Linked DNA regions of Homo sapiens. The protein of the gene in region 2 purifies or fractionates together with the protein of the main gene of each other region. This does not show direct contact. Each region holds a gene or a part of one and is shown on either strand. Other genes may lie near its edges. The genes, in order: ADPGK, HTR1B, ELOVL1, SCAMP2, KDSR, RFNG and TMCC3.

Region 1 (3,901 bases), on a different chromosome or scaffold from region 2:
CTGCCAGCTGGTTGGCCCAGTGTCCATCCACAGTTGCCAGGATGTGGTAGACCAGCGTGTGGAAATGGATCCTGGTGAGATCCGAGGCTCTGCTTTTACTCCTCCCATGTTCTTTCAAGATCCAGAAGAGGATGTCACTGACCATGCCCACATCAGGAACACCGTTCCAGGAAGAGAGAGAAGAGTGAGGTCCAGAGGCTGACTGGGTGAGAAATAACAGCTCCTGTTCATTCAGCCCAAGGGAAGTCACCGCGGGAAAGACCTGCTAACAAAAACAACAACAGGTATCTTTCTGATGGAGATAACCTGGCTCCTAAGATGTCTTATGACACAGCCAGTGACTAAATGACAGGGAACACAGGCAGGCAGCTTTCTTCCTTGATACAGGACTCCCTGGCCCTGAAGTCACTGTTTTAGCTATCACACCCCTATCTTCACCTTCATCATCATTTGGGAGAAACTGGAAAGCTGCAGTAACATTGTTTCAGATGCAGTCTTTTGTGATATGCCACTGTAAGACAAAAGGCAGAGGTGTCTATATTTTGTGTTTCTTTCCATGGTCCCTAGCTTTTGCCACTGCACACATAGGAGATACTCTTACCACTGATGGGGCATGGCTCTCAGTTCCTGAATGTCAGCAGTATTAGACCAGTAAAATGGAGACCTCAAGCAACATACTGTCAGGGTTATAATGATTTTTTTTATACAAAACACCAAGAAGCAAAAAGCATACAGTTTCATGTTAGAGCTAAGCTTTTTAAAAGCAGGTGTGGGTTAGGAAGACTGTCTGAATTTAGCAATAACACTGTAAGAAAAAGATTACCAAACAGGTGCCCGTGTTTTCTGTCTGATGGGGAACCACAATATCCACCTCCCTGTCTTTCTTACTTAGCACTTCCCTCCTTAGAACCAGAGAACCACACTTAAGGTAACAATTTTTGCAGGAGAGAGGAGTCCTTGTATGTATGTGTGCATGTATAAAATGGTTTTAAAAATTTAATGGCCTACATCTTTGTTGGAGCAATAGCAGCTTTCCTTCACTGCATGTTCTTCTGTGTCAGGCACTGAGCTAAAGGCTTTATTTCATCCAATTCTTACTGTAATCTTCTGAGGGAAGGAGGGACTGCCTCCATTGTACAGACTAAGCCTCAGAAGGGTTAAGTAGACAGTTACAGAGAAAATGAAATAGAAATGGCTCATTTTTTTAAAGGTGAGAAGAAAAACCCAAACAAAAGCTATACTGAAAAACACCAAGAGTGAACCCAAGTGTAAACTATGGACTTTGGGTGCTGATGACGTGCCTGTGTAGGCTCACTAGCTTAACAAATGTACCACTCTGGTGCAGGCTGCTGGTAGTTGGGGAGGCTTGTGTGTGAGGGGACTGGAAGTATATGGGAACTCTCTTGGATTCTGCTCTATTTTGCTATGCACCTAATATTACCATAAAAAAAAAATGAAGTCTATCAAAAAAAAAAAAAACAAAACCAACGACAGTCAGCCCTCCATATCCATGGCTTCAACCAACTTCAGATGGAAAACAGAGTATTCAAGGATGTGGAACCTGCAGATAGGGAGGGCCAACTTGTCTAATCCACAGATTCCACAGGGCCAACTGCAGGACTTAACCATCTGCAGATTCTAGTATCTGGGAAGGGTTCTGGAACCGCCCCCGCCGCCCCACACACCGCTGATGACGAGGGATGACTGTATACTGAAATACCATTTTTTCATCTGTCAGACTGATATAAATGCAAATTTTAACATTCTGGTAGCAAGGATATGAGGGAACAAGTATTTGTAATTATTGCCAGTGGGAAGTAAACTGGTATAATTCTTATGGAGGGCAATCTGGCAATCTCAAAATTACAAGTGCTTTTTTATGCTCCAGTCCAGCTGTTCTACTTCTGAGACTTTCTCCTAAATATGGACTTGTTCACAGGCAAAACAAAATCATGTATCAAGTTGTTCACTGCAGCACTGTGTGTAACAGCAAAGGGCAGTAAATAACCAATATGTCCATCCAGAAGGTTCAGGTTAAGTAAACGGAGGTACATCTACACATTCATTTTAACCATATGGCTATGAAAAGACAGAGGATACTCTCCATGTTAGTGATGCAGGAAGATCTCCAAGATATATTTAGTGAAAAAAAGAGCAAAGTGAAGAACAGAGTATTCAGTAGGCTATGCTATCTTTTTGGGTAAAAAGGGATGGAAAACAAAATCAGGATATATTTCTGTATTTTCTTATACTTGTACAAAAGAACTCTGGAAATAAACTGATGAAGGGTGCAAGTAGGGAAGGGGAGGAAGTAGAAGGGAGACTTCATTGTATATCTTTTCATAGTTTTTGGGTATTTTTTAACCAAATGAATATATTACCAATTAAAATTAGGTAACACTAGATTGCCAGGTGAGGTAACTTGCCTGAGTTCATGAAGCCCGTGAGTGCAAGGCTGGCATGCGAACCCAGGTCTCCAGAGCTTGTGTTCTGAAGCTTCACCTGCTCAGATTTATACTAGTCAATGCTGCTGCCCAGAGGCAGGCACTGAACACCCAGATGCCTGAGGAAGGAGGGAGGTTCCCTCAAAGTTTCTTTGCTTTGAGCTTCTTGAAGTTCAACTGAAAGCAGCTGAGCTGGGCTTTCAGTTTTTTCCATTCACTTTCAACTTTTCCATTCCAGAGGAGAAATATGATCAACAATCTGTCAGTTACACTGCCATAACTTTAACCTAGTAGGAGATACTGCTGTTTCAGAACAGTCCTGGATCCTTATTTGGATCTCCATGGACTTGGGTCTGAGTGACACAAACCTACATGTCAGTGAGCCAGTCCCTGAGCCCAAACAGATGGTCCCACTGCACAAAAAAGCTTCTCTGCAAGGCTCTATGAGGATCAGGGCCAAACGATGGTCCCATGAGGTTACCTGATGGACAATGCTGCTCATGAGCTCCCTGTTAGTCATACTGGCCAGCTCTAGGTGAACTGGAATACCAGTGGGGATGTCAGAAATGGAGGTTACAACCTGCAAAGAGAAGAAGATAAGCACTGCCATTAGAAATAGAAGGAAGTCAAGAAAGAGGGAAGAAAAGATCAGATCCTGAGAGGCGGTTCCTCCTGGTAATGGCCTTCTTTGCATGCTCACGGGAGCTACAAGCAATGTGGGTCCCCACCACCTCTGTGGACAAGGGACACTCTTCCCACCAGGGAAGACTAGGCTGTGCAGAGCCATCAGGGATACAGAATCAGAGATGGCAGTTCACTTCGACTGCTGTACGAATCTGTAGGAGTTGCAGCATAGCTGATGTGAAGTGAGATGATACAAATAACACAAAGGACACAAACTACAAACCCTGCAGCTTGCAGCCATGGTCGGTTTAGCACAGGATGCAGAGGCTCAGGCAAGAAGATGTTCTGCCCTGTCCTACTCAAGCTGCTGCCCACATCTGAAGGGATACAGTGAGGTGCCTCACTGCAGCAGGAGGCAAGCTCCACAGCCAGCTGCCAAGATATGTCCCTGGGAGGCCAGGACCTAAGACAAGGCAGCAGATGCCAAGAGAGGCTGGAACCTGAAGAAAACCACCAGCTGAGATCTGTGAAATTCTGTAACAGTGCCATTACCTCCAAGAGTCTCTTCCTCTGGAGCTCCTTGCTTTGTCCCTCCATCATGTGCAATCCAGAGAGGACCACCAGGTCTGGCTGAAACTCCTCCAGGCTAGACACAAACACCTCCAGCATATTCATGGCCCCGTTGGAGAGGTCGTGAGAGAAGATGAATCGGTTGGCATGGGGAGCTTTTAACTGGCCCCACTCCTCCCCTGGAAAAACCCAGTCAACACAATGGGAAGAAAAGGAAGAGGCTTTAGGTCTCCTAGCTGTGGGGGCACTTTCAGGCACCTCAC
Region 2 (4,300 bases):
TGGTGGAGCAGAAGGTTTAATTTCACATACAGTTGGCTTCTGTTTGTGATAACTTTTACATTTTCGCAGATAGCTTGTCTTTTTCCCTGTTGACTCATAGTTGAGTGAAAAACACAAATTTCTAAAACTAGATGAAAAAATAGTTTTTATTGTATCAAGAGTTAAGGACGGCAAAGTACAAAATGCAAACATTGGGCCCTCTACAGCGATATTACTGGTGCCTCCTAACCTGGGTGTGGCCATCAGGGCTGGATATGATTTTAGAGCGGAGAGGTCAGAGACCAGGGCTTCCCCGCCTAACACTGGCCTCCTAGGGTGGGAGTGGTAGGCAGGAGCCTAGGGCCAGACTGCTGGACTAAACCTGTGACCATGGCTAAGGACATGGGTCTCACTGGAGGTCAGCGCAGCAAGCTCTGATGTCCGTAGAGGCGAGAACAGGACGCCTTCTTCCCCTGACCAGAAATGCAGCTCCAGGTTGTCAGGGCTGGGAGGATGGCCCAGGGTGGGAAGCGGGGAGATAGGGCGGTAGGACCCGGCGGGAGCTTCCTTGGCCAGGAAAGGAACAGGGCGGGGGGAAAAGAGGGAGGGAGAGAGAAAAAGGGAAGGTGATGGGGAGCGGGCGTCCGCACCCGCCGCGCCGCACGAGTTGCACTGCTCTGGCGGACCGGACCTGGACTCTATATAAAGAGCCCATCTGCTCCGTAGCTCGCACGCTTCTCCCGGGCTGGTGCACGCCGCGTCCCTCCAGCTCCCCCAGACACCTGCCCCTTCCCAGTGTGCCGCGCCAGGTCCTCCAGACCCGCGCACCCAGTGGCATGGCTCCGAGTGGCTCCCGTGGGACCAGGGTGGCGGTGGCGGCGGCGCGGCCCGAGCAGCCGCAACTCCAGCCCCCGTGTCCCCCCTTTTATGGCTCCGTCTCCGCGGGGCAGCTCGTCCGAGTGGCCAGAGAGTGAAAAGAGAGGGAGGGCAGAGCTCCGGCGCGAGGCGCGGCGCAGCGCTGCTCCTAGACTTCACCCCACCCAGCTCTGGCGGCCGCTGCAGCCCCCCAAAAGTGCCCCAGCTTGGGGCGAGGGGTGGGAATGCAAGATCTCGGGACCTCTCGCTGGCCTGCAAGCTTTGGTCTCTACACCTAGGAAACTCCTGTGGGCAAAGTCTGCAGATCCAAAAGCGTCCAGGTTAGGAGACGCTCAGCCTCAAGCAACTGGGGTAAGAGATCCCATTTGGTCAAAGCCTTCTCCTCAAGCAGTACTTCACCCTCCTGCACTAGACGCCTCCAGGGAGCTGGAGCGGAGCAGGGCTCGGTGGGCCAGCTCTTAGCAACCCAGGTCTAAGACCCGGTGTGGAGAGGAACAACCACAGACGCGGCGGCTTAGCTAGGCGCTCTGGAAGTGCAGGGGAGGCGCCCGCCTGCCTTGGCTGCCGCACCCATGACCTCTAGTTTCAGCTGTGAACCTGGGCGGAGGAATAATTGAGGAACTCACGGAACTATCAACTGGGGACAAACCTGCGATCGCCACGGTCCTTCCGCCCTCTCCTTCGTCCGCTCCATGCCCAAGAGCTGCGCTCCGGAGCTGGGGCGAGGAGAGCCATGGAGGAACCGGGTGCTCAGTGCGCTCCACCGCCGCCCGCGGGCTCCGAGACCTGGGTTCCTCAAGCCAACTTATCCTCTGCTCCCTCCCAAAACTGCAGCGCCAAGGACTACATTTACCAGGACTCCATCTCCCTACCCTGGAAAGTACTGCTGGTTATGCTATTGGCGCTCATCACCTTGGCCACCACGCTCTCCAATGCCTTTGTGATTGCCACAGTGTACCGGACCCGGAAACTGCACACCCCGGCTAACTACCTGATCGCCTCTCTGGCGGTCACCGACCTGCTTGTGTCCATCCTGGTGATGCCCATCAGCACCATGTACACTGTCACCGGCCGCTGGACACTGGGCCAGGTGGTCTGTGACTTCTGGCTGTCGTCGGACATCACTTGTTGCACTGCCTCCATCCTGCACCTCTGTGTCATCGCCCTGGACCGCTACTGGGCCATCACGGACGCCGTGGAGTACTCAGCTAAAAGGACTCCCAAGAGGGCGGCGGTCATGATCGCGCTGGTGTGGGTCTTCTCCATCTCTATCTCGCTGCCGCCCTTCTTCTGGCGTCAGGCTAAGGCCGAAGAGGAGGTGTCGGAATGCGTGGTGAACACCGACCACATCCTCTACACGGTCTACTCCACGGTGGGTGCTTTCTACTTCCCCACCCTGCTCCTCATCGCCCTCTATGGCCGCATCTACGTAGAAGCCCGCTCCCGGATTTTGAAACAGACGCCCAACAGGACCGGCAAGCGCTTGACCCGAGCCCAGCTGATAACCGACTCCCCCGGGTCCACGTCCTCGGTCACCTCTATTAACTCGCGGGTTCCCGACGTGCCCAGCGAATCCGGATCTCCTGTGTATGTGAACCAAGTCAAAGTGCGAGTCTCCGACGCCCTGCTGGAAAAGAAGAAACTCATGGCCGCTAGGGAGCGCAAAGCCACCAAGACCCTAGGGATCATTTTGGGAGCCTTTATTGTGTGTTGGCTACCCTTCTTCATCATCTCCCTAGTGATGCCTATCTGCAAAGATGCCTGCTGGTTCCACCTAGCCATCTTTGACTTCTTCACATGGCTGGGCTATCTCAACTCCCTCATCAACCCCATAATCTATACCATGTCCAATGAGGACTTTAAACAAGCATTCCATAAACTGATACGTTTTAAGTGCACAAGTTGACTTGCCGTTTGCAGTGGGGTCGCCTAAGCGACCTTTGGGGACCAAGTTGTGTCTGGTTCCACAGGTAGGTCGAATCTTCTTTCGCGGTTTCTGGGTCCCAGCGAGGCTCTCTCTCCTGGGCAAGGGCAATGGATCCTGAGAAGCCAGAATAGTCCTGAGAGAGAGCTCTGAAAGGAGAAGTGTTGAAACTAAATGTAGAGCTTCCCTGCCCAGGAGGAGGCTCACTTCCTCCCCTCAAGCCCCGGGCTCAGCACTGACCCTGCGGCAGCCAATCCCAAAGGGGGTTGCAACTTTTAAAAATTGATAATGGAAGGGAATCCCTGCCCTGCTTTGGTATCGTGGATAATGCCCACTAGAAGCAGTGTACTTGTAATTGTTGTCTGAAGCCTGTCTGAGACAGATCTACATACAGCCTGGCAGTACTTGAACTAGACGCTTAATGCCCTGTGTTTTTGGGGGGAGAACTTTGTGTTACAGCTTAATTTAAGAACAGTTACTTTGGCATCATTCAGTCTTCACTTTTTGTCTATTTAAACTTGGTTGGAGAAACTTGTGGATTTGGTGCTTCAAACCCTATGTGTGGCTTGGATGGCGCAGAGAAACCTTGAAGAGTTAACAGCAAAATTCTGATGCTGAGATCTCTATTTTTATTATACTTGAAACTATATGGGGGTGGGTGGGTGGGAATGGGAGATGAGGAGTGTTAAACTGAGAATCAACACCTATGATTGTTTGTTTTCTGCAGATTTACAATTTTGTAATTCCTGTTTAGCGATTGTCAAGCCACAACTCTAACAAACAAACCATTATGTGTGCTAGTGCCGAAGTCTGCAGACTGCTTTATTTTTTCTCTTAATTTCATGTACCTGTCACTTTACACATTTAAATCCCCATAAATGAAGGGTATGATGGGTGACTCAGCCCACACTGCTGCTATATTTCTTACTAATGCAATTGGTAAAACCGATTAGTATTGGAAATATACTGTTTCTTAACAAGAAAAGTGTCTTTATTTCTTATCCAATTTAGTGAGATGTGAAGGAGACTGATGACATGGGGATAGTTCTTACACAATTGAGGAATGGGGTGGGGGCAATAGGAGGATGTATATTTTGACTTGTAAAAAAATCTTAAAATGCATGAAACTTTTATCTGATAGTCATTTGCACTCTCCTTCCCATCTGTGATTCCTTGTGTGCTAACATATAAAGAAACCAAGAGAACTATCTTCCTTCTCCAGAAACCTTAAAAATACAGTTAAGGGCCCTAAAAACGATATTGAAAAGAAAATAAACTTGTTTCTTTTTTGTTGTTGTTGTTATTGAAGTTTGGGCAGGAGAAAAGATTGCTAGAAAATGACATATAAGAACTTTAGAAAAGCTTAGAGAAACTAAAATTGAGCCTGTTTTTGTCTTGTTTTTTGTTTGTTTAAAAAAGAAAAAATTGCAGAACCAAACCTCAGACTTACTAACAATCAGGAAACTGGCAAGCTTTTGACCTTTGTAAATTTGTTACCAACCTGATATCTCAATTAATATA
Region 3 (4,449 bases), on a different chromosome or scaffold from region 2:
CGCCTCAGCCTCCCAAAGTGCTGGGATTACAGGCGTGAGCCAACGCACCCGGCCTTTTTTTTTTTTTTTTTTTTTTTTTTGAGACAGAGTCTTGCTCTATTGCTCAGGCTGGAGTGCAGTGGTGCGATCTCGGCTCACTGCAAGCTCTGCCTCCCGGGTTCACACCATTCTGTCTCAGTCTCCCGAGTAGCTGGGACTACAGACGCCCGCCACCACGCCCGGCTAATTTTTTGTATTTTTAGTAGAGATGGGGTTTCACCGTGTTAGCCAGGATGGTCTCGATCTCCTGACCTCGTGATCCGCCTGCCTTGGCCTCCCAAAGTGCTGGGATTACAGGCGTGAGCCACCGCGCCCGGCCTTTTTTTAAAAAAATGTGTTTATTTTCCTTGCGGAGCAGGGCTGCCCCATAAGCAGTGTGCCCAGAGTAGCCCAAATTCCCTAATTCTGTCCGCACTTACACCATCCAATCATACAAGCAGTTGTTAGATCGTTGTGTGCTACTGTTCCAGGGGCCGCTGGAGGTAGAAATTCCATTTCACTAAAATCTAGTCTGTCCTTTGCCCCCACTAGTTGAGTCCAGTTAGTGAGTGTGGAGGTGGGGGCTGGAGGTGTAGAAGAGATAAATAAATATATAGAGAGCCAGTCCAGCTGTCTGGAGGACATTGTCCGCCTCCTCCAATCCCATCAGTTGCCACATCTTCTTTGGTCAGGCTGGCTTTCTCACCTGGTCTCCTTTCTGTGCCCTCCTCACACTGGCTGCCAAAGTGATTCAGCCAGATAGACTGCAAGCCCCGTGAGTGCACGGACGGTGGGTGGTCCATAAACGTCTGATGAACTAATGATACAAGCTTGAATATAGTCTCCTAAAAAAATCTTTAGTTTCTCCTCTGCTTCTAGAATAAAAATCAGATCGCCCCATTTGGCCTTCAAGACCTACTACATTCAGCCACAGTCAGCTTCATTTCCCTTTTTTCCTTTCACTACCTCGAAGGCCAGATTAGCCAGTGATTCACTATGCTTGCCCCGGGCCACTTGTATCCTCTCACCTCCGTTCCAGGCAGCCCTCGCAGCAGATCCTAACGCTTAGGGCTCCTCCAAGTGTACAGGCTCGTGAGGCTTCCCTCCCGCTAAGACCAGTGCGCCCTCAGCACACGCAGTGTGGTCTCGCCCGCCGCTCTGCGCTCGCCCTGCAGGAGAGGGAGCTCTTTGAAGGCAAGGCCGAACCTCCCCCGAGCCCTGAGCTGGGCCTGCCGCCACAGATGTGCAGTCCTGCCGGGGAGCAGTCACCCGGGGACAGGGCCGGGCCCCGGGCTGCACGTCGGGAAGAGACAGCGTGCTCCTGAGGTGGCCAGGCCGCTGCAACTGGCCAGGGCGGGCCCGGGCGGCGAGGGAAGGGGTGGGAAGCCCGGGCCGCGGCGCTTCCTGCTGGGACCCGGCGGCACGCCCCTGCCCCCGCCCCGGCCGAGCCTGCGCTGCCGGCCTCCGGCCCTGCCGGCCGCCCAATCAGCGGGCGCCCCCCGCGCGGCCCGCCCCTCCCCCTCTGGTGACAGAAAGTCGGCCCAGCAGATGAGGAAGTGGCAGGCAGGCAGGCTGGCCCCGGGGACTTCTCTCTGGCCCTGCTCCCTCCGAGCGCTCCGCCGTTGCCCGCCTGGCCCCTACGGGTGAGTCTGGACCTTCCACGGACTCTCCACGTGCCGGCGCCCCCTGCCTGGCCAGCCCGGCCCAGCCCGGCCCAGCCCTGCCCTGCCCTGCCCAGGCTGTGGGCGAGGGTGTTCCCGGGGCCAGTGGGTGGGAGGTCCCAGCTCCCTGGGGCCGGGCCTCGCCAGCACCCTCCCTCCCCCACACCCCCGTCTCTGGCCCCCATTTGCCTACACCCGGGCCTTCCTCCACCACCCCTGCATTTACCTCTCTCCCTCCTCCTCTCCCCTCCCTCCCCCCGCTACCCTAACTTTGCCAGGCACCTTTTCCCTTCCATCCATCTTAAAGGAAGGAAGGGACGGGCTGAGTTCCCCGACGAGAGACACACCCAGATTTTCCTGCAGCTTGGGGAGAGGTCCTCCCAGGAGCCTTGGTCCCTCCTGGCCTGCCGGGTGTGTGGGTTGATATTGGGGGCTGGTGGTTGAGAGATAACAGGCTGGCTGGCTCCCATGTGTCAGGGAGGAACCTGTGTTGGCGCCCTCGCCCCGGCCTGGGCCCTGCCGGCGATGGGCGGCCAGCAAGCCCGATGGTGGGGGAGCAAGTAAGGAGGGGATCCGAGCGTGGCCAGGCAGCGCGCACACGTGTGTGAGTGGCCCCGCGGGTGAGCCCGTGCGTGTGCCTGGGCGGTGGCCGAGCTGCGTGAGGGCCGGGAGCCATGCGTGTCAGCCCACGGAGGTGTTGCGTGGTGTGTCAGGCAGGAGACGTGTGTGCCAGCCCTCGGCGTGGCACCTTCGCTGTTGGGGGTGGAGAGCTAGGTGAGAGGTGGGTGTGGACCGCAGGCTTGGGGCCTGACCACGGTGGGCCTAAAGAAGCCGGGCCTCCTGGAGGTGAGGGGTGTGCGGGGCAGGGAGGTGTCAGAGGTGCGCCTCTTCACTTGGCATCTGCAGAGGTGCTTCTCTGGAAGCAGGGAGTCTGGGGCACCTGCTGCCCTGGGCCCTGCTCTGTTCCAAGAATGCCTTGTCCCTCAGGGACTGTCAGTACCATGCTCTCCTGGGTCTGGCCAGAGGCTTTTGTGTCCCTGGGAGCCTTCCCCCGACATTCCTTCAGGCCCTGAGGGGGAGGGGGCCTAGCCCAACGGGGCCCCTCCCTGAGGGAGGGGAAGATTCCTGCGACCTCCCCCACTCCCCAACCCCTTCACATGCCACTGGCTTCCCTGCCCTTCCCAGGAAGGGAAGAGTGATTGTACCCATTCTGAAGTAGGACAAACTGAGCAGTTATGGCCGGCTTAGGAGAGGATGCTGGGTGTGGATTTTCAGCAGTGCTTTGGGCCAGGGCTGGGGCTGGGGCTGGGGTCAGAGGAGGTTTCTGGCTCAGAATCTAGGACCTTAGCTCATCAGGCTGGTCCCACGTGGGTGGGTGGGTGGCGAGTCTGGGGCTTTACTTGGCTTTCCCAATCCTGGTGGGTCCTGCTCCCCCAGGCACTGACCTGTGGCCCGGACCCACCCTCCACCCCCTGCACAGTACAGCAGGGGCGGGCAGAGGGCGGGGCTGCTGCCAGATCTAGTCAGACAGGTGGAGCCGCCGGGGCAGGAGTCTCAAAGAGCCAGGCTCCAGGAGAGGAAGGGCTCTGCGAGAGGAGAGAGGAGAGCGCTGGAGAGGAGAGGCTGGAGGTGAGAGTCCCAGGAAAGGCAGAGGAGAATCGTAGGGACATAAGTGTCCCAGCACAGGCAAGGAGGAATCCGAGGATAAGGTTCTGGAGGGACAGAAGGGCCCAGAGAGGTGAGAGTCCTGGCAGGGACAGGAGGGACCCTGGGGAGAAGAGAGTTCAGGAAGGGTCCAGAGGGATGGGAAGAGGAGAGGGCAGGAGAGGAGAGATTGAAGGGGAGAATCCCTGGAGAGAAGAAAGACCCAGAGCTGGGGAGGTGAGGGACTCGGGTGAGGAAGGGAGACGGAGTTCAAGAGCTCCCTGTTGGTGAGAAGGTAAGATTCTCCAGTAAGAGACCTGGAATTGAGAGTTATCTTGTGGAGGAAGAGGGGAAGGGAGGCCAGGAAGTAAAACTGTGGAGAGGAGAGGAGAGTAAGGTGTGGAGAGGAAGGGTGGAACAGCTCTTCCCAGGCAAGCAGGATGTGTGGGGAGCAGATGCCTCAACCAAACTGCCTCCTCCCCCTAGTTCCCAGTAATTCCTTCCTTTCACTGTTCTGTCCTTTCTGCAATGAGGCATTGCAGGTGTCTTGTCTGGTTCTGTGTCTTATCTCTGTGGGATGGGGGTGTGCAGTGGGATCTGTCTGACATCCGCCCTCTGTACCTCCCCAGAGTCCTTAGCCAGGATGGAGGCTGTTGTGAACTTGTACCAAGAGGTGATGAAGCACGCAGGTAAGACGCTATCCACCAGCCCTTTCCTTCCTTCTTTCCCGGGATCCCTGGATCTACGGCTGTCTTCTAATGGAGAGTTCCTATGAAACCCTTGATCCTGTGACCTGACCTCATGTCTGTAGACCCTTCAAATGAAGACCCTTCGAACCCTGTGACTCTTCCTGATTCCTTTGACCCTTATTCATAGATCCCCGGATCCAGGGCTACCCTCTGATGGGGTCCCCCTTGCTAATGACCTCCATTCTCCTGACCTACGTGTACTTCGTTCTCTCACTTGGGCCTCGCATCATGGCTAATCGGAAGCCCTTCCAGCTCCGTGGCTTCATGATTGTCTACAACTTCTCACTGGTGGCACTCTCCCTCTACATTGTCTATGAGGTGGGCCCCTGGGATGCCGGGCTTTAATTTCTGTCAGCAGGATAAGGAGCAGGCCATAG
Region 4 (3,901 bases), on a different chromosome or scaffold from region 2:
AGCTCCTTTGGACACTGCCCTGATCCCACTTGTGATGTGCTGTCACTCTCAGTGAGCATTTATTTTCTTTCTTTTTTTTTTTTTTTTGAGATGGAGTCTCGCTCTGTCATGCAGGCTGGGGGGCAGTGGTGCAATCTCGGCTCGCTGCAACCTCCGCCTCCCGGGTTCAAGCGATTCTCCTGCCTCAGCCTCCCGAGTAGCTGGAACTACAGGTGCCCGCCATCACGCCTGGCTAATTTTTGCATTTTTAGTAGAGATGGGGTTTCACCATATTGGCCAGGCTGGTCTCGAACTCCTGACCTTGTGATCCGCCCGCCTTGGCCTCCCAAAGTGCTGGGATTACAGGCGTGAGCCACTGCGCCCCAGCCTCAGTGAGTATTTCTTAGCTCTCCTGCCAGAAGCCATTGATCACATACTGTGCTCATTTACCATGGTCTCCTGCACAGGCCTGCAGAGCAGCATGACCTCAGTGATGTGCACTAACGTGAACATCTCAAAGCAGCACTTGCTGGATGGGTCACAGTTTGCAAATGTGCACAGCACTCTTCTCTGAATGAACAGCAAGTACCCCTTGTTTGTCCTGGTTAAATATTACCATTTCTCTGAAATTAAGATTATCTTACCCCAAGTGTTTCCAAAGAAGACTTAACGGAAGAGTCAAAGTTCACCTATCTCTCTACCCAAGTTTTAACACCCAGCCTGGCTCCAGGTGCCAACCATAAAGGCAGGAATCCTATCTGGGCAGCTGTCTGTAGTCACAGTGAAGCTGTAAGAACCCTGCCATTTTCAAATTTCTTGAGACAATGCTCTGTTACACAGGAAAGTTCTACCAGGTCCATCTGGTTATTCCAAGAATTCCCAAAGTTATGGTCAAGCTGGGGCCAACCCTCTCTGGGAAGGTCCCACTGTCTGCACAGGGAAATTCAAGTAACTTTGTTCACACCCAAATCACGTTTCTGCCACCACTTCTTCCTTCCACAGGAGAGAAATATTTCAAATCCTTGGGAAGCAGCCACAACACTGAGATTATCTTTTAACTGCAAGGAGGCAATGTGTGAAAGTGATATTGTGTGACTTGGCAACTTACAAACACTGAAAGGTTTTCTCTGTTCAATGCCACCACCTATTCCACTTCCTCTCCTTGAGATCAATGCTGTCTGCCTGGGATAATCTGGCAGAAGTGCTGAGTGGGAAAGCAGCCCTAGGCACTTGCCTGGGTGGTCTGATTTTTAGTGGACTGCTGAAAAATGGACAGTACAATGACTCCCTTTAGCTTTCCACCCCTTCATCACCTGACAAGACTTAATGAGAAACTTTTGGGAGCAGACACCCTGGATCATTCCAAAGCAGAGACCGAAATACTCAGAGGGTACAAAGCAGCTGCCATAACCAACAGAGGAATTAGGGTGTGCCAGTGGAGGCTGTGAAATCAACAACACTTGGCTTGCAGTTTCCTGCTTCCTCCTAGGAGGTGGGCAAACCTCTGTGGCACACTCATATCTTAACTTCCCATTCACAGCTCTTTCTGTGCAGGAAGTTTTCTAATCATCCCGATCATAACCACACGCAAGGAAGAGGTCATAAAAGCACATGCCCACAGTGCGGGGTGGAAGCAGGCACTTAATAAAGAACCTTGGATGAGGAAGTCAACTAAATGGTGCACTGGGAGTTTCAAAGGATATAACGACTGAGCAGAAAACAGATTCCATGGTCGAATAACCTTGAGAAATGCTGGGTCAAATAAAGCTGAGCCAATGTCTTTTTGTAGGATTTCTCAGAGCCTTTAACAAACTAACAGGCCTTGTGAATCTTTATTTTGGTTTGTTTGTTTTTTGAGATAGAGTTTCACTCTATTACCCAGGCTGGAGTGCAAAGGCACTCCTCAGCTCACTGCAACCTCCACCTCCCAGGCTCAAGTGATCCCCCTGTGGCAGCCTCCCGAGTAGCTGAGCCCACAGGTGCATGCCACCACACCCAGCTAATTTTTTGTATTTGTTGTAGAGATGGGGTTTTGCCATGTTGCCTAGGCCATTCTCAAACTCATGACCTCAAGTGATCCACCTGCCTTGGCCTCCCAAATTGCTGAGATTATAGGTGTGAGCCACCATGCCTGGCCAAGCCTTGTGAATCTTTGAAAAAACAAACAGGCTGGGCACAGTGGCTCACGCCTGTAATCCTAGCACTTTGGGAGGCTGAGGCGGGTGGATCACCTGAGGTCTGGAGTTCGTGACCAGCCTGGCCAACATGGTAAAACCCTGTCTCTAGTAAAAATACAGAAATTCTGAGCGTGGTGGTGGGTGCCTGTAATCCTACCTACTCAGGAGGCTGAGGCAGGAGAATCGCTTGAACCCAGGAGGTGGAGACTGCAGTGAGCCAAGATCGCACCATTGCACTCTAGCCTGGGCAAAAGAGCGAAACACCATCTCAAAAAACATAAACAAAGAAACAAAAACGAAATAGGTAGCAATTCCCAAACCTATTTGACCACAGAACCATGAGCACCTTTCAGGACTGGCATTACTCAGAATATATATTGCTTTAAAGAACTGTCTTAAAAAGCCCAAGAATTGTTCTCCAGTGGAAAAAAAAAACCAATAATAAAAAATAAAAAAATTAAAGAACAAAAGCACAAGATCTGTATTATTCCATCCCCTCACACTGGAGAAAAAATGTAGCTTAGCTAATACTAATTTGTTACTTTCACCACTCCCAGTACTCTCAAGAATGGTGACAACTGTGATGATGTTACATTCCATTCTTTCCTTAGCCAGCCTAAAATAGCCCCAGTGCAGTTTAACACCAATGTCTGAGCTTCAAAACCTTTAAAACAGCCCTGTCCTGGGAATGAGACCCAGGTCAGCACCTTCCTGCTGCTAAACAACTGATGACTCTGGCACATACCATCCTCATTGAGGTCTTGGTTTCCTCATCTCTAAACTGAAGAGGTTAGAATAGAGTTCTAAGAATGTTCTCAGCTCTTAACAGTCAACTATGAGCTCTGAACACTAGGTATATTTTTGCAATCCACCATTTCTGTCACTGCATGACGGAAATAAAAACGACTGTTCTGGAGTGTGACTAGGTGTGACAGTTTCTGAGTCTATCGCCTCTCCACCTGCTCTCTCCTGAGCTTGGTGCCAACACCCTGAGTAAATGAAGCTGGGCTCACACCCAGGCACCCAAGGGCTACACCTCCCAACGTCCTAGCCCTGGCAGTCAAGGAAGCAGACATCACCATCTCAAGGAAAAGGTGGGCAGCTCTGACCAGGAGAAGGTTCAGAGGCCTCACATCCAAAGCTGTTTCTCCCCACACCACTGTGTGCCAAGAGGAAAAGCCCAGCCCAGGATGAGGAGGAGCAAATCGCAGCCAGCCAGCCAGCTTTCTTCTTCCCACCCAGGACTCCCCACCAGATGTGGCTGGTTGACAGGACCACAGCTGCTTCCTGTCATGCCATATCCTGGGGCTTCCTGATGGACAGACTGTCTCGCTAGAATGCAGAAGTTACTTCTACCACAGTTTGCACAGTCATTTTTGGAGCCAGAGATGAGGTTTAAGACTTTCAAGCAGCTATTAATACAGGGTAGAACTATCTTGCCCTCTGCTAACACTGGAGCAAAGCTCTCTGCATTTTTAGACAACTGACTTCCTCTCTGTCAGACAGCAGCAGACTTTTTATTTCTGATTCTGAGAGGACAAAAAAACACACATAAAAAATGGAAAATCATCACATACAACATACACCATAAGGCTACAAGATCCTACTAAAACCCAAACCCCAGTATTATACAGCAGTTTTGTAATTAAAGTCTGTTACCAGAAGACATTGGCAGAAAAAAAAAATGCAAATCTTCTTTCTTTACTCAATAGAGATGACTGTTTGCCTTACATAAGAGACAAGGT
Region 5 (3,901 bases), on a different chromosome or scaffold from region 2:
GTCCTACATTATTTTTTTAATTTGAAGTGAAATTCATATAACATAAAATTAACTGTTTTTAAAGTGAGCCATGCAGAGGGATTCAGCATATTCACAATGAGGTGCACCCACCCCCTCCGCCTAGTTCTAAAGCATATGCATCACCCATAGGGCGGCCCTCACCTGGTAAGCAGTTGCTCCCCATCCCTGCTCACCCCCACACCCAATCTCTGACAACCACCAATCTGTATTCTGTCTCTGGTCATTTCGTATGATTGGAATCATGATATGTGCACTTCTGTGTCTGACCTCTTTCTCTTAGCATCAGTTTTTGAGGCTCATCCACATGTAGCATATATGGGTGCCTCATTCCTTTTTATAGGGTGGTGATATTCCTTTGTATGGATCGACCACATTCTGTTTAGCTATTCATCATCGATGGCCATTTGGGCTGTGTCTAGCTGACTGCTTATTAAATAGACTCTTAGTCCCTACTCCTGTCTCAGCCCCATGCCAGCCCACCCTTCCCTCCACCCCAGAGACTCTTGCAGCTGGAGCCTTTTGGGGTTCTGTAGTAGAATCTGGCTTTTTAGTTTCTCCACTCCCCGCTTAGCATTTAGTTTTTTGTGGTCTGCTAAGTTAGTTATCCCTCCTCAACCTGTTCTTCAGCTTCCAAAAGGTTATTGCTGTTATTTTTATTCTTATTTTCTTTGTTCTTGTGTGTTCTTGCCTTAAAAAACATCTCTTTACGGAGATTTTAGTAAGGTTTCTAAAGGGAGCCAAAGTAAACACAGGCGTTCAGTGTGACGTCTTTTTTCAGATATTCTTTTAGAACTTTCTTTTTTTTTTGGAGACGGAGTCTTACTCTGTCACCCAGGCTGGAGTGCAGTGGCTCAATCTCGGGTCACTGCAGCCTCCACTTCCCAGGCTCAAGCAATTCTCCTGCCTCAGCCTCCCGAGTAGCTGGGATTACAGTTGCCCACCACTATGCCTGGCTAATTTTTTTTTTTTTTTTTTTGTATTTTTAGTAGAGTCGGGTTTTCACCATGTTGGTCACGCTGGTCTCGAACTCCTGACCTCAGGTAATCCACCTACCTTGGCCTCCCAAAGTGCTGGGATTACAGGCATGAGCCACCGTGCCCGGCTTAGAACATTTTTTATTATCAAAACAATATTATGTTACGAAAACACACTTTTGGAAAAAAAAGAGAATCCCAGCATCCTAACTCAGTCACTTATGATCTTCTGTATTTCCTTGGTCTTCCCTCTGAGCATGTGTACTTTTACTTAACCTTTGAAGTAATTACAGTTACAGCATATATACAGTCTAGCTTCTGCTTTTTAAACTTAAATAGCATAGATATTTTTCCCTGTCACTCCCAGTGTTTCTGGTCATCATTTAAAACAATTATCTAGGCCAAGTACAGTGGCTCACACCTGTAATCCCAACACTTTGGGAGGCCGAGGCAGGCAGATCACTTGAGGTCAGGAGTTCGAGACCAGCCTGCCCAACATGGCGAAACCCTATCTCTACTAAAAATACAAAAAATTAGCTAGGCATGGTGGCTGGCGCCTGTAATCCCAGCTACTTGGGAGGCTGAGGCAGGAGAATCGCTTGAACCCAGGAGGCAGAGGTTACAGTGAGCCAAGATCACACCACTGTACTCCAGCCTGGGTGACAAGAGCAAAACTCCATTTCAAACAAATACAAACAAACAACAATAAAAAAATCTAATATTCTCTTGAATTAAGATATTATGATTGTATGTTCATGTTCTGTTCATAATATGAAAAAAAATTATGATTGATCTCAAGTTCCACAATTGAGGTATTTAGTTTTTATTTACATGATGATCTAATATTTTTACAAATATTTGAATATTTGAAACATTTTAATGCAAGTATTATTAAATTTTCGAGTTAAAATTTAAGGTTTTTAAGAGCTCAGGCTAGGCGCAGTGGCTCATGCCTGTAATCCCATCACTTTGGGAGGTCAAGGCAGGAGTACTGCTGGAGCCCAGGAGTTCAAGACCAGCCTAGGCAAAATAAAAGGACCCTGTTACTACAAAAAATACAAAAATTAGCTGGACGTGGTGGCATGTGCCTGTAGTCCCAGGTCCTCAAGAGGCTGAGGCAGGAGGATTGCTTGAGCCCAGGAGATTGAGACTGCAGTAAGCCAAGGTTGCACCATTGCACTTCAGCCTGGGTGACAGAGTGAGACCCCGTCTCTAAAAAAAATGATAATAGTAAAAAAGCAAAAAATAAATAAATAAAAATTAAAAGCTTCCAAGACAAGGAGAAAATACACTATTAGTACTCTTACCCATCATAATGGGAGAGCCAGTGGTTCTTGAGGTCCAGGACTGTGCTAGCGCTTGTGTTTTCTCTTTTAATCTTTGCAACAGCCCTATGCGGTCATACCCTTGTTGACCTTGTTTACAGCCAAGAAAATAAGTAGAATGTCTGACTTTCTTATTCATCATCAAATAGGCAATAAATGGGAGACCCAAGGCTTGAAACCAAAACTTTAAATCACCCTCCTACTCTGTGTTTTTCTTATAGCTTAGAACTAATAGGGCTACAAATACTTGGAACCTCTTTCCTAAAACTGTCTTTCAGAAAGTACTACCCACAAACATGCAGTATACTTTTTATAAGGAGAAAACTAACTTTGACCAGTTTTCAGGAAAAACATTAACTGCTGTCATGGTCAGAATGCAAGACTAGACTGAAACAGTCTTCAAATGGTAGGTCCTGAGTCTTCAAATGCTAGGTCTCAAATCACATTTCATTTATATCATCATGTCATCATTCATTCATTCAGCAAGCCTGTTGGGCTTCCCAGTCACTTGAGCTTGCATTGAAGAACTGAAATCCAGAAAGCAGACTAAATTCTCCATGTGCACAGCCTTGAGGCTTTTGACCTCATGTGGCCTCTTTGTTCCCTGCAGAGGTTAATGAGCATCAATTACCTGGGCAGCGTGTACCCCAGCCGGGCCGTGATCACCACCATGAAGGAGCGCCGGGTGGGCAGGATCGTGTTTGTGTCCTCCCAGGCAGGACAGTTGGGATTATTCGGTTTCACAGCCTACTCTGCATCCAAGTTTGCCATAAGGGGATTGGCAGAAGCTTTGCAGATGGAGGTAAAAGTTGTATTCATTTTTGTATTTATTCCTCTCCGCTCAGCAATATACATTCCGCTTTAGTTTTATAGCTTCTTTACATGTGTTGTTGTATTAAATTAGAGATTTTTAGGTTTGACATTGGTGAAAGAGAATTGGCTCAACCCTGAGTTTTGCAGTTAACATTTTTCATTGCATGAAGACTATAGTTAACGACAGATGCAAAATGGTAATGGGATTTTTGCTTGTTTAACTTAATACACAAAATATTAGTGATATCTTCATAGTGTTATTAGTCTAATACTGTGTGAATGTGAGTAAGGTTAACCAGATATTTTATTTTATAGAGATTTTTCTTTAACAAGAAGTTTGTCCTTATGACTGAATAATACGTGAAATTAGTATATGTTTGAGGGAAGAGCTTGAATCAGCTGCTAATTTTTAGCTTTTAGACAAGTCATTTAACTTGCTCTCAGTTTCCTCATCTGTAAAATGGGAGGGTTGGAATAAAGCAATAATTTGACTCTCCCAATATTTATATTTTTATATCTTAAAGAATTGTTGGGAAAATGAATGCTTTTTATTTACATAGTTAATGGAACATTTTGTGGAAGAAGGATGTAGTTAGGATTTGCATCAAAATAGCGTCTGTCATGATGAGTGCAACTTTACACCTCAGCTGCTTGAAGCCGACTTCCACATTATTGTCACACAGGAATGCTTAGAGAGCATCACATACGTATCTACCCAAAAATCACATGCTGAAAAAGGCAAGGGAAAGTTCTTTCTATTGCTGTGTA
Region 6 (4,660 bases), on a different chromosome or scaffold from region 2:
CAACATGGGCCAGGCACCTGGCACCTCGTCCTGGGGACTGCCCCAGGAGGGCGAGAGACCCGCACTGTTCTCTGAGGTCAGCTCTGCCCAAGATCTTCCAGGCCAGTCGGACCACACTCCCGCCGCTGCTGTCCCCCAGGTGTGCCCTCCCAGTCACCCCCGCCCCCACCCAGGCTCCTGTGCCACCACATCAGGGAGGGGTCTCCTCACAAGACTCTAAGGCTCAGAAGCAGAAACCCCTCGCCTGATTCTAGCCGCTCATCTCTGAAAGCCAGAAAGCAGACAGGGGACAACCAACTACACAGGGGCCTCTGAGGGCCCCTACACGTTCCCAGCCACCATCCTGATGTAGTTTCCTCCAAGCCACGGAGAAGAACGGGACGCCACCTCAACCCCAGGAGGCAGGAGGACCAGCCCCCGGAATCTGTCCTGAGCAGCGGAGCAGCAATACTGGGCTGAGAGTCACGCCACGGAGTTGGGAGAAGGGGAAAAGAGTCATCTCAGGGAGCCTCATGGCCCCCAGCTGGGAGACACAGAGAAGCCAGGACCTCGGCTTAACACAAAGCAGGCTGGAAAAGCCGCCATGCCGGGCACTCGCCGGACCCGTGGGCCTCCCGCGCTCCTTCGGGAAAAGCACCAAGAGCTCGGCTCCCTCCGCAGGCCCCGGGCCCACCGGGGCTCCCTCCCCTCCTGCGCTTGGCACTGAGTCCCTGTCCTCGGCCAGCAGAGCAGCAGGGGCCCAGCCACAGCAGGGGCGGCCGGGGCCCTGCTCCCCCCTCCCTCGCTCGGGGGTCCCTGTCCTGGAAGGTACCTCGTAGAGCAGCGTACAGGCCGACAGGCTGGCGCTCAGGCTGAAGTCCCCGGCCGTGCCGGGCAGGACGAGGTCTGACCTACTGCTGTGAGGGGTGCAGTACAGATCTGTCACTGACGAGGAGGCCGAGCTGGGGGCCGAGCTATCCCTCATTCTGTCCTGACTTTCTGCACCCCCCGACCCTGACACAGAGCTGGCTGGCTGCTGAAGGGAGAAAGAGCGTTAGCGTCGGGGCGGCCGGGAACCTCTCCCGTGAGCTGCTGGGAGGGGAGGCGGGGCGGGCGCGGCCCGGCGGCCCCCGATCGCAGCGCGCAGCCACGGCGGAGACGCGCCCTCGGCCCTGCAGCCCCCGACGCGCGCTGCCCGCGGAGGCCCGGCACGGAGCGTGCCCGACCGACTCCTGGCGCAGGCCCCGCGCCCCTGCTCGACCTCAGCCCGGCCCCAGTGGCGGGGGGCGCGGGGGCGCGGAGGCCCGGGGCGGCCTCGGCTCGTTACCTGCAAGTTAAACACCTGAACCGGCAGCGGCATCTTGCACCCACCCCGCCGCGGCGTGCCGTCCACTTCCGGGGCAGCGAAGCCGTCGCTTCCGGGGCGCGGGGCGGGGCGGGGCCGCTGCGTTCTTAAAGGGGCCGCCGCCCACCCACGGCTCCGGCCAGGTTCTCCGCTCGCAGCGCCGGGGGTCCCGGCGGCCGCATGAGCCGCGCGCGTGGGGCGCTGTGCCGGGCCTGCCTCGCGCTGGCCGCGGCCCTGGCCGCGCTGCTGTTACTGCCGCTGCCGCTGCCCCGCGCGCCCGCCCCGGCCCGGACCCCCGCCCCGGCCCCGCGCGCGCCCCCGTCCCGGCCCGCTGCCCCCAGCCTGCGGCCTGACGACGTCTTCATCGCCGTCAAGACCACCCGGAAGAACCACGGGCCGCGCCTGCGGCTGCTGCTGCGCACCTGGATCTCCCGGGCCCGCCAGCAGGTGCGCCGGACCCCGACCCCGACGGCGAGCCCCACGCCCACCCGCCCCGCCTCCCAGGGTCTAGGCCCGGCCCAGGCCCCCGGAGGCTCCGCGCGGGGCGGGTCGGTCTCCGGCCTGGGCAGCGCCCCAGAAGCCTCATAGATTGTTTCTCCCCCAGACGTTTATCTTCACCGACGGGGACGACCCTGAGCTCGAGCTCCAGGGCGGTGAGTGTCCCCCACTCCCCGGCGCCCGCGGGATCTGCCCCCCGAGCCTTTCTCGCTCCGAAGCCACGGCCCCTTCGCTGCTGTGGGTGCCTTTCTCTGCCCAGGCTCCCGAGGCCCGGGGAGGCCCCGACGCTGCCCAGGTCACGCGGCCTGCGGAGGGCCCACCCTGCCAGCCAAGCTCTGCTCCCCACCAGCCTCTCACACTAGCCGCTTCCCGGGGCGTGGGGCTAGTGCCACGTCCCCTGAAGAAGCGCCAGCAGGGAATCCGCCCTTCCAGGCCAGGTCAGGGCGAGCTGCCTCCGTCCTGTTTCCACTCAAGAGATCCCAACCGATGGCCGCCTGCTTCAGCCTCGGTGGCACCAGCAGGGTCAGCGCGTGAGGGCTAGGGCTGTGGTTGGACCCAGGCAAGGTGTCCAGGCATGTCAGACAGCCACGTTGTGCCCTGGCCCTTGGGGGCAGGTGGGGCACAGGCCTTACCCCAACCCCAGTGCCATCCTCTACGTGCGTGCTTCCCGTCTCTGATTCGCAGGCGACCGTGTCATCAACACCAACTGCTCGGCGGTGCGCACTCGTCAGGCCCTCTGCTGCAAGATGTCCGTGGAGTATGACAAGTTCATTGAGTCCGGGCGCAAGTACGCGGCGCTGACCCGACCCGCAGAGAGCTCAGAGCCAAGCTGGGTGGGGGCCTCCTGTCCAGCCATGCCAGGCCCTCGTGCCCAGGACTCCCCTCGCCCACAGGTGGTTTTGCCACGTGGATGATGACAATTATGTGAACGCCAGGAGCCTCCTGCACCTGCTCTCCAGCTTCTCACCCAGCCAGGACGTCTACCTGGGGCGGCCCAGCCTGGACCACCCCATTGAGGCCACCGAGAGGGTCCAGGGTGGCAGAACTGTGAGTGTCGGAGCAGACGCCATCGGAGCAGACGCCTTCCTTGACACCAGCCCGGGAGGCACAGCAGAGGGCGTGGAAAGCTGGCTTGAGAAGGGCATAGGGTTGGGGGCCCAAGCTGATCCACCCAGGTGGTTTGCATGTGGTGTTTCAGGAGCAGGCCAGGAGGCCCTCACCGTACTGGGCAGAGAGGGGGTGTCTGGGCCAGGTGGGGAGGGTCTGGAGGCTACGGGTCAATGGCCTGCAGAAGCCCCCGGCTCTTTTTGCTCCAAGAAGCTTCTGTTACCTGGGTGGGATCTCCTAAGGGGCAGCTTAAGAAAGATGCCTGGGGAGTCCCATGAAGAGTCAGGGGTGAGAAGCCCTGTCCTGGGCAGCTCTGACCACCACCCCATCTTCAGGTGACCACGGTCAAGTTCTGGTTTGCTACTGGTGGGGCCGGGTTCTGCCTCAGCAGAGGCCTTGCCCTCAAGATGAGCCCATGGGCCAGGTGAGTGGGGGTCCAGCTGCCCGGGCTGGGAGGCGGAGGCTGAGACCTGAAAGGTGCTGACCGGCCTCCCCCCAGCCTGGGCAGCTTCATGAGCACAGCTGAGCAGGTGCGGCTGCCGGATGACTGCACAGTTGGCTACATCGTGGAGGGGCTCCTGGGCGCCCGCCTGCTGCACAGCCCCCTCTTCCACTCTCACCTGGAGAACCTGCAGAGGCTGCCGCCCGACACCCTGCTCCAGCAGGTACAGGCGCCACTCTGGGTGCCTCTGCCACCTGGGCTTTGCCCCGCCCTGACTCCCCCAGGGGCCCCACTGCCCCGGCCCGATGCCCGGCTGAGCAGGCAGGTGGGATTTGCATGTGGCTGGGGGTGGACCCTGGACAGGCCCCTTGGCCTGTTGGACACAGGGTCCTCACGTACAGATGGGGTATGGTGTCTGGGGCAGAGGAACGAGGGGAGAAGCACAGTTCTCGGGCCAGTGAGGCCCCATGCCAGCTGGGCAGTGGGTGTGGTGTGTATGGTGATGGTGAGTCGGAACAGGTCCCATCACGTGGAGCAGGGAGGGAATGAGGGTCAGCTTTGCCCTGGAGGTTTCAGATCCCTATCTTCTGTCCCCCAGGCTCTGCCTGAGGTGTCCCCCTACTCAGCTCATGCCATGCTTCAATGCTGTTTCCAAGCCTGGCCTCCCCGAGGGCCTGGGGAGAGGGGGTGGGCAAAGGGGCTCTAGCAGGGCTCCTGGCCAGGGGCAGGCGTGGCCCGAGACCAGACCAGGCCACACACTCTGCCCACACCCTTCCCTCCCAGGTTACCTTGAGCCATGGGGGTCCTGAGAACCCACATAACGTGGTGAACGTGGCTGGAGGCTTCAGCCTGCATCAAGACCCCACACGGTGAGTAGGTAGTGGCATGGGCAGGCCCTCGGCCCCGCAGGGGCTCTGGCATCAGCTCCCTCTACCCACGGCCCTGACCCCCGCTGCTCCCTCCGCCCACGGCCCTGACCCCGGCTTCTCCCTGTACCCACGGCCCTGACCCCAGGTTCTCCCGCCGCCCACGGCCCTGGCCCCCGCTTCTCTCTCCGCCCACGGCCCTGACCCCTACTTCTTCCTTCCCCAGGTTTAAGTCTATCCATTGTCTTCTGTACCCAGACACGGACTGGTGTCCCAGGCAGAAACAGGGCGCCCCGACCTCTCGGTGACACCAACCACCCCGACCCAGGGCTGCCTGGCTCTGTCCCAGGCGCGGGGAACCAGAGCCCCCTATGGGCTCAGTGGGCTCCCTCAGGTGCCACGGCCACACCAGTGAGATGCAGG
Region 7 (3,901 bases), on a different chromosome or scaffold from region 2:
GTGGAACTCACTTGGATGCAGCTGTAAAGATATGTTTTCCTGACACCCAGAACGTATGTGATGCGAGAGGAAGACATCGAGTGCTAATTTCTTGATGTCACCATCTCCTTGGGAGGAAACTAGTATAGGATTTAAAAAGAACCCTTTTATGAACTCATTTGGTGAATTAGCTCCCCTAAAAATGCCAATGAGAACTAGGGGGTCATGGGAAGAGTCGACTAATCTTTCAGGGATATGGAGTTTCTGCCTAGAAGTGGGCAAAGACTCCATGAGATGAAGTTCTTAGTTACTGAATGGTCATTTTTTAAATTCAAAATCAATACCTGTTGAGATAACAGGGAAACTACATGGTCTGTCTTGCTGGGCTTATTTCAGCCTTTGAGACTGGAATAATAATGAGGCAGTGTACTCTTTCAACATTGCAGAAATCTATTTTTACATCTAGGTGGACTGACCTAGATAACCCCTCCCCCCTTAGTGAAAATGTAAGTAATGAATTCTGTGATTGTTGCTAAGCTGACAAGTCAGGATCATTCACATTTTAAAACTTCATCTTTGTAAAACTCAGAAATGGTGCTTGTTAACTTGATGCACATATCTCTCTACTTTAGAAGAAAGAGCATCCATAATTAGACTCCTACTTTTTTTTCATGCCCTAGATAGTTAAAGCCTATCATCTTTTTAAGAATACAGGCCGTCTGCTTTCTATACAGTAACTGGCTTTTATTAATGATGTGTGAATTAGGTTTTCTTTTAGTTGGTTTTCATTTTAAGTGTTCTAAAATGCCCTCTCCAGCCACTTGAGTATAGTGGTGGACAGCTGGGGCTCTGGACCTACGTGGGTTGTATTCTGGCTCTTCGAGCTTCTTAACTGGGTGACCACTGGGGCAAGGTCCTAAATAGCCTTTCTGAGCCTCCAGTTTCCCATCTGTAAAAGAGGTAATACTCCACTCTTCTGGGAGTGATTGTGTGTCTTAAATAAGAAAGTATTTGTTTTTTAAAAAAAAAAAAAAAAGCCAGGCACGGTGGCTCACGCCTGTAATCCCAGGACTTTGGGAGGCCGAGGCAGGTGGATCACCTGAGGTCAGGAGTTCAAGACCAACCTGGCCAACATGTTGAAACCCTGTCTCTACTAAAAATACAAAAATTAACCAGGCATGGTGGCAGGTGCCTGTAATCCCAGCTACTCGGAAGGCTGAGGCAGGAGAATCTCTTGAACCCGGGAGGCGGAGATTGCAGAGAGCTGAGATCGTGCCATTGCACTCCAGCCTGGGGGACAAGAGTGAGACTTCCTCTCAAAAAAAAAAAAAAAAAAAAAAAAGGTGTGTGCTTTCAAATATTAGCTATTTAAAAAAATTTTTTTAAATTTATGTTCTCTCACTGGGTGAAAAAGCTGTATTTGTCTATATGTCAGGTTAATAATTTTTTTCTATTTTGTTGGTGCCACTACTAATCAGAACTGCTAGTCATCTTGAGTGCCTGCCCTCCCCCATCTCTCTAACCTATTAGCAATACCACCGCACCTTTCTCTGACATTTCTCTGGAATTGGTTTCTTCCATATCTCCCAATCATCCCCCACCTTAGTCACTTATGACCTTCACCAACTTCTGTTCCATCCTGCATGCAAGGACCATATTATTTTCCCTACAGAACCATTTGCATTAGGATAGTCCCCAGAATACAGATCTTGTACCAGTGCTGTTTGCTACCAGTGTAATCTTGGATCCTGTAATCACTCTAAGCCTTAGTTCCTACTTCTACATAATAGGGGTGTTTTGAGGAATAAATTCAGTAATGTCTATAAAATGTTTAACTCCATGCCGGGTGCACAATAAGAAATCAATAGATGTTAACCACTTTTACTATAGGCCGAGCATCTCAATCCAAAAGCCAAAATCCAAAACTTTTTGAGCGTCAACATGACGCTCAAAGGAAATGCTTACAGGAGCATTTCTGATTTCAGATATTTCTATTTGGAATGCTCAACCAGTAAGTATAATACAAAGATTCCTAGGCCGGGCATGGTGGCTCATGCCTGTAATTCTAACACTTTGGGAAGCCAGGTGGGTAGATCACTTGAGTTCAGGAGTTTGAGACCAGCTTGGCCAACATGGTAAAATCCGGTCTCTACTAAAAATACAAAAAAATTAGCTCGGCATGGTGGCAGGTGCCTGTAATCCCAGCTACTAGGGAGGCTGAGGCAGGAGAATCGCTTGAACCTGGGAGGCAGAGGTTGCAGTGAGCCAGGATTGTGCCATTGCACTCCAGCCTGGGCAACAGAGGGAGACTCCATCTCCGAAACAAAACTAAACAAAACAAATTCCAAAATCTGAAATCTGAAACACTTCTAGTTCCAAGCATTTTGAATAGGGGACCTGTACTATATGAAAGAGGGATTTGTGAGCTTAGAAACGGAAAGGCTGCTAATTTTGTGAAAAGTATAGACTTTTCTAGCATTGCTAGCATTTTGTGCCTCCTTGCGTCATGTTTCTCATGACATTGACTGTTTATATGTTTAATGCTTACATGTATTTATAAACTATAGACATTGGCACTTTGAGAGCAAGATGCTTCGTTTATTCAAAAAATACTTACTGAGCACCTTCTGTGTGCTGGCTGCTGATCTAGGCATCAGGAATACAATGGTAAATGAAACAGTCTGGTCTCTGTGGAAACTTAATATCTGGTGGGTGTATCTCATTTATTCTTGTGGTTCCGGACAATACCCCTGTCTTGTACAGGAGAACATGATGATAATACATGCAGAAATCTCTAACATCTGAAGTAAAACTTGTGTCAAGCGTGAGTGCCACCTGTAGTATATCTTCAAGTGTTCTGTGGTTTGGAAATCCATCTACAATTACATGATGAGTAATGACCAAAGGCAGTGAAGAAGAGGATGCTGTAGCCCTTCTCACAGTGGAACTGGTTGGGCAGTGATGTAGTAAGTTGATGATCACATGCTTACTCCCTGGGCAGGAAATAGGGGGAGTGGAAACTGACCTCTGTCCTGGAGGACACTGACCCGGTGAAGTGGTAAGTTGAGTAGTACACAGATATCGTTTTCACCGGTGATTTGTTTTGTTCTAAAGAGCCTCTTAAAGAGAATGAATAATGGTGAGTGTCTCAAGCCAGGTTTTTCTTACATTTAGGATGAGCAAAGTGATGCGGTGTGTGTTTTTCGAGCTGTACTTTGTTGCAGGCTTTTCCTTTAGAGGAGAAGGAACTGCCGGCCACCACCAGCTCACCCGCCTGTCACATCCGCTGTAGAGATCACCAAGACAGCTGCTACCAAGTTGGATCTCAGGGTGTATTTTGCTTCAGACCCTCTGCCGGCATCTCCAGGACTGCTGCTAAGGTCAGAAATCAACCTAGTCCTACTTGGAAAATGCCCGCAGCTTGACTTAGAAGAGTCTGCAGCTTTCAGCCCTGTGGTTTCTTAATTGTGTTTTCATGTTTTCAGTGGAGGGGAGGAGGGTGACAAGAGAAGAGGAAGAGAACCATGAATCACTGTACTGTGAATCAGAATGAGGACTTTTCATTCCTTCGAAAGAGAACATCAGGATATATGATTTGTGCATAGGCCAACTGCTTCCGTCGACTTGGGAGGGGTGCTGCCTGAAAGGAACCATAGTATATTTGTGGATTATTCCTCTGTAAGGAGGTAAAAAGAACATAGGTGAAAGGAAGAATGCAGTCACAATAATAGTTAATGTGTACTGAGTGCTTACTGTACACCAGGCAACATGAAGCACTTCAAATACATGATCTCCTTGGTCTTCCACAATATCCCACTTTTCCATTTTACAGATGGGGAGGCTGAGGCCCAGACAGATTATTAGTTTCTCTAAGATCTTGTGGCTATTAGGAAACTATGGTAGAGCTAGGGTTTGAACCTGT

What was found.
Region 1: the proteins of HTR1B (region 2) and ADPGK purify together in Homo sapiens (affinity purification with mass spectrometry; one large-scale study listed by BioGRID and IntAct). This does not show direct contact.
Region 3: the proteins of HTR1B (region 2) and ELOVL1 purify together in Homo sapiens (affinity purification with mass spectrometry; one large-scale study listed by BioGRID and IntAct). This does not show direct contact.
Region 4: the proteins of HTR1B (region 2) and SCAMP2 purify together in Homo sapiens (affinity purification with mass spectrometry; one large-scale study listed by BioGRID and IntAct). This does not show direct contact.
Region 5: the proteins of HTR1B (region 2) and KDSR purify together in Homo sapiens (affinity purification with mass spectrometry; one large-scale study listed by BioGRID and IntAct). This does not show direct contact.
Region 6: the proteins of HTR1B (region 2) and RFNG purify together in Homo sapiens (affinity purification with mass spectrometry; one large-scale study listed by BioGRID and IntAct). This does not show direct contact.
Region 7: the proteins of HTR1B (region 2) and TMCC3 purify together in Homo sapiens (affinity purification with mass spectrometry; one large-scale study listed by BioGRID and IntAct). This does not show direct contact.

What each region holds. Positions count from the first base shown.
Region 1 is NC_000015.10:72,752,631-72,756,531, forward strand, and holds part of ADPGK (ADP-dependent glucokinase isoform 4 precursor), read right to left. Parts: intron 3,818-3,901; coding exon 3,621-3,817; intron 3,025-3,620; coding exon 2,926-3,024; intron 512-2,925; coding exon of another isoform or gene 485-511; exon of another isoform or gene 439-484; intron 266-438; coding exon 1-265. UniProt on the Homo sapiens protein: Catalyzes the phosphorylation of D-glucose to D-glucose 6-phosphate using ADP as the phosphate donor. GDP and CDP can replace ADP, but with reduced efficiency.
Region 2 is NC_000006.12:77,460,692-77,464,991, reverse strand, and holds HTR1B (5-hydroxytryptamine receptor 1B), read left to right. Parts: upstream 1-1,500; 5' UTR 1,501-1,588; coding exon 1,589-2,761; 3' UTR 2,762-4,068; downstream 4,069-4,300. UniProt on the Homo sapiens protein: G-protein coupled receptor for 5-hydroxytryptamine (serotonin). Also functions as a receptor for ergot alkaloid derivatives, various anxiolytic and antidepressant drugs and other psychoactive substances, such as lysergic acid diethylamide (LSD).
Region 3 is NC_000001.11:43,365,127-43,369,575, reverse strand, and holds the start of ELOVL1 (very long chain fatty acid elongase 1), read left to right. Parts: upstream 1-1,564; 5' UTR 1,565-1,661; intron 1,662-1,861; exon of another isoform or gene 1,862-2,090; intron 2,091-3,952; 5' UTR 3,953-3,966; coding exon 3,967-4,012; intron 4,013-4,199; coding exon 4,200-4,390; intron 4,391-4,449. UniProt on the Homo sapiens protein: Catalyzes the first and rate-limiting reaction of the four reactions that constitute the long-chain fatty acids elongation cycle.
Region 4 is NC_000015.10:74,866,728-74,870,628, forward strand, and holds part of SCAMP2 (secretory carrier-associated membrane protein 2), read right to left. Parts: intron 1-3,901. UniProt on the Homo sapiens protein: Functions in post-Golgi recycling pathways. Acts as a recycling carrier to the cell surface.
Region 5 is NC_000018.10:63,350,109-63,354,009, reverse strand, and holds part of KDSR (3-ketodihydrosphingosine reductase), read left to right. Parts: intron 1-2,930; coding exon 2,931-3,122; intron 3,123-3,901.
Region 6 is NC_000017.11:82,048,611-82,053,270, reverse strand, and holds the start of RFNG (beta-1,3-N-acetylglucosaminyltransferase radical fringe), read left to right. Parts: upstream 1-1,459; 5' UTR 1,460-1,504; coding exon 1,505-1,771; exon of another isoform or gene 1,772-1,806; intron 1,807-1,928; coding exon 1,929-1,977; intron 1,978-2,179; exon of another isoform or gene 2,180-2,339; intron 2,340-2,506; coding exon 2,507-2,609; intron 2,610-2,715; coding exon 2,716-2,869; intron 2,870-3,264; coding exon 3,265-3,353; intron 3,354-3,428; coding exon 3,429-3,594; intron 3,595-4,154; coding exon 4,155-4,240; intron 4,241-4,463; coding exon 4,464-4,545; 3' UTR 4,546-4,660. Other genes in the region: GPS1 (COP9 signalosome complex subunit 1), read right to left, coding at 812-1,015, 1,307-1,339.
Region 7 is NC_000012.12:94,643,852-94,647,752, reverse strand, and holds part of TMCC3 (transmembrane and coiled-coil domain protein 3), read left to right. Parts: exon of another isoform or gene 1-1,315; intron 1,316-3,901.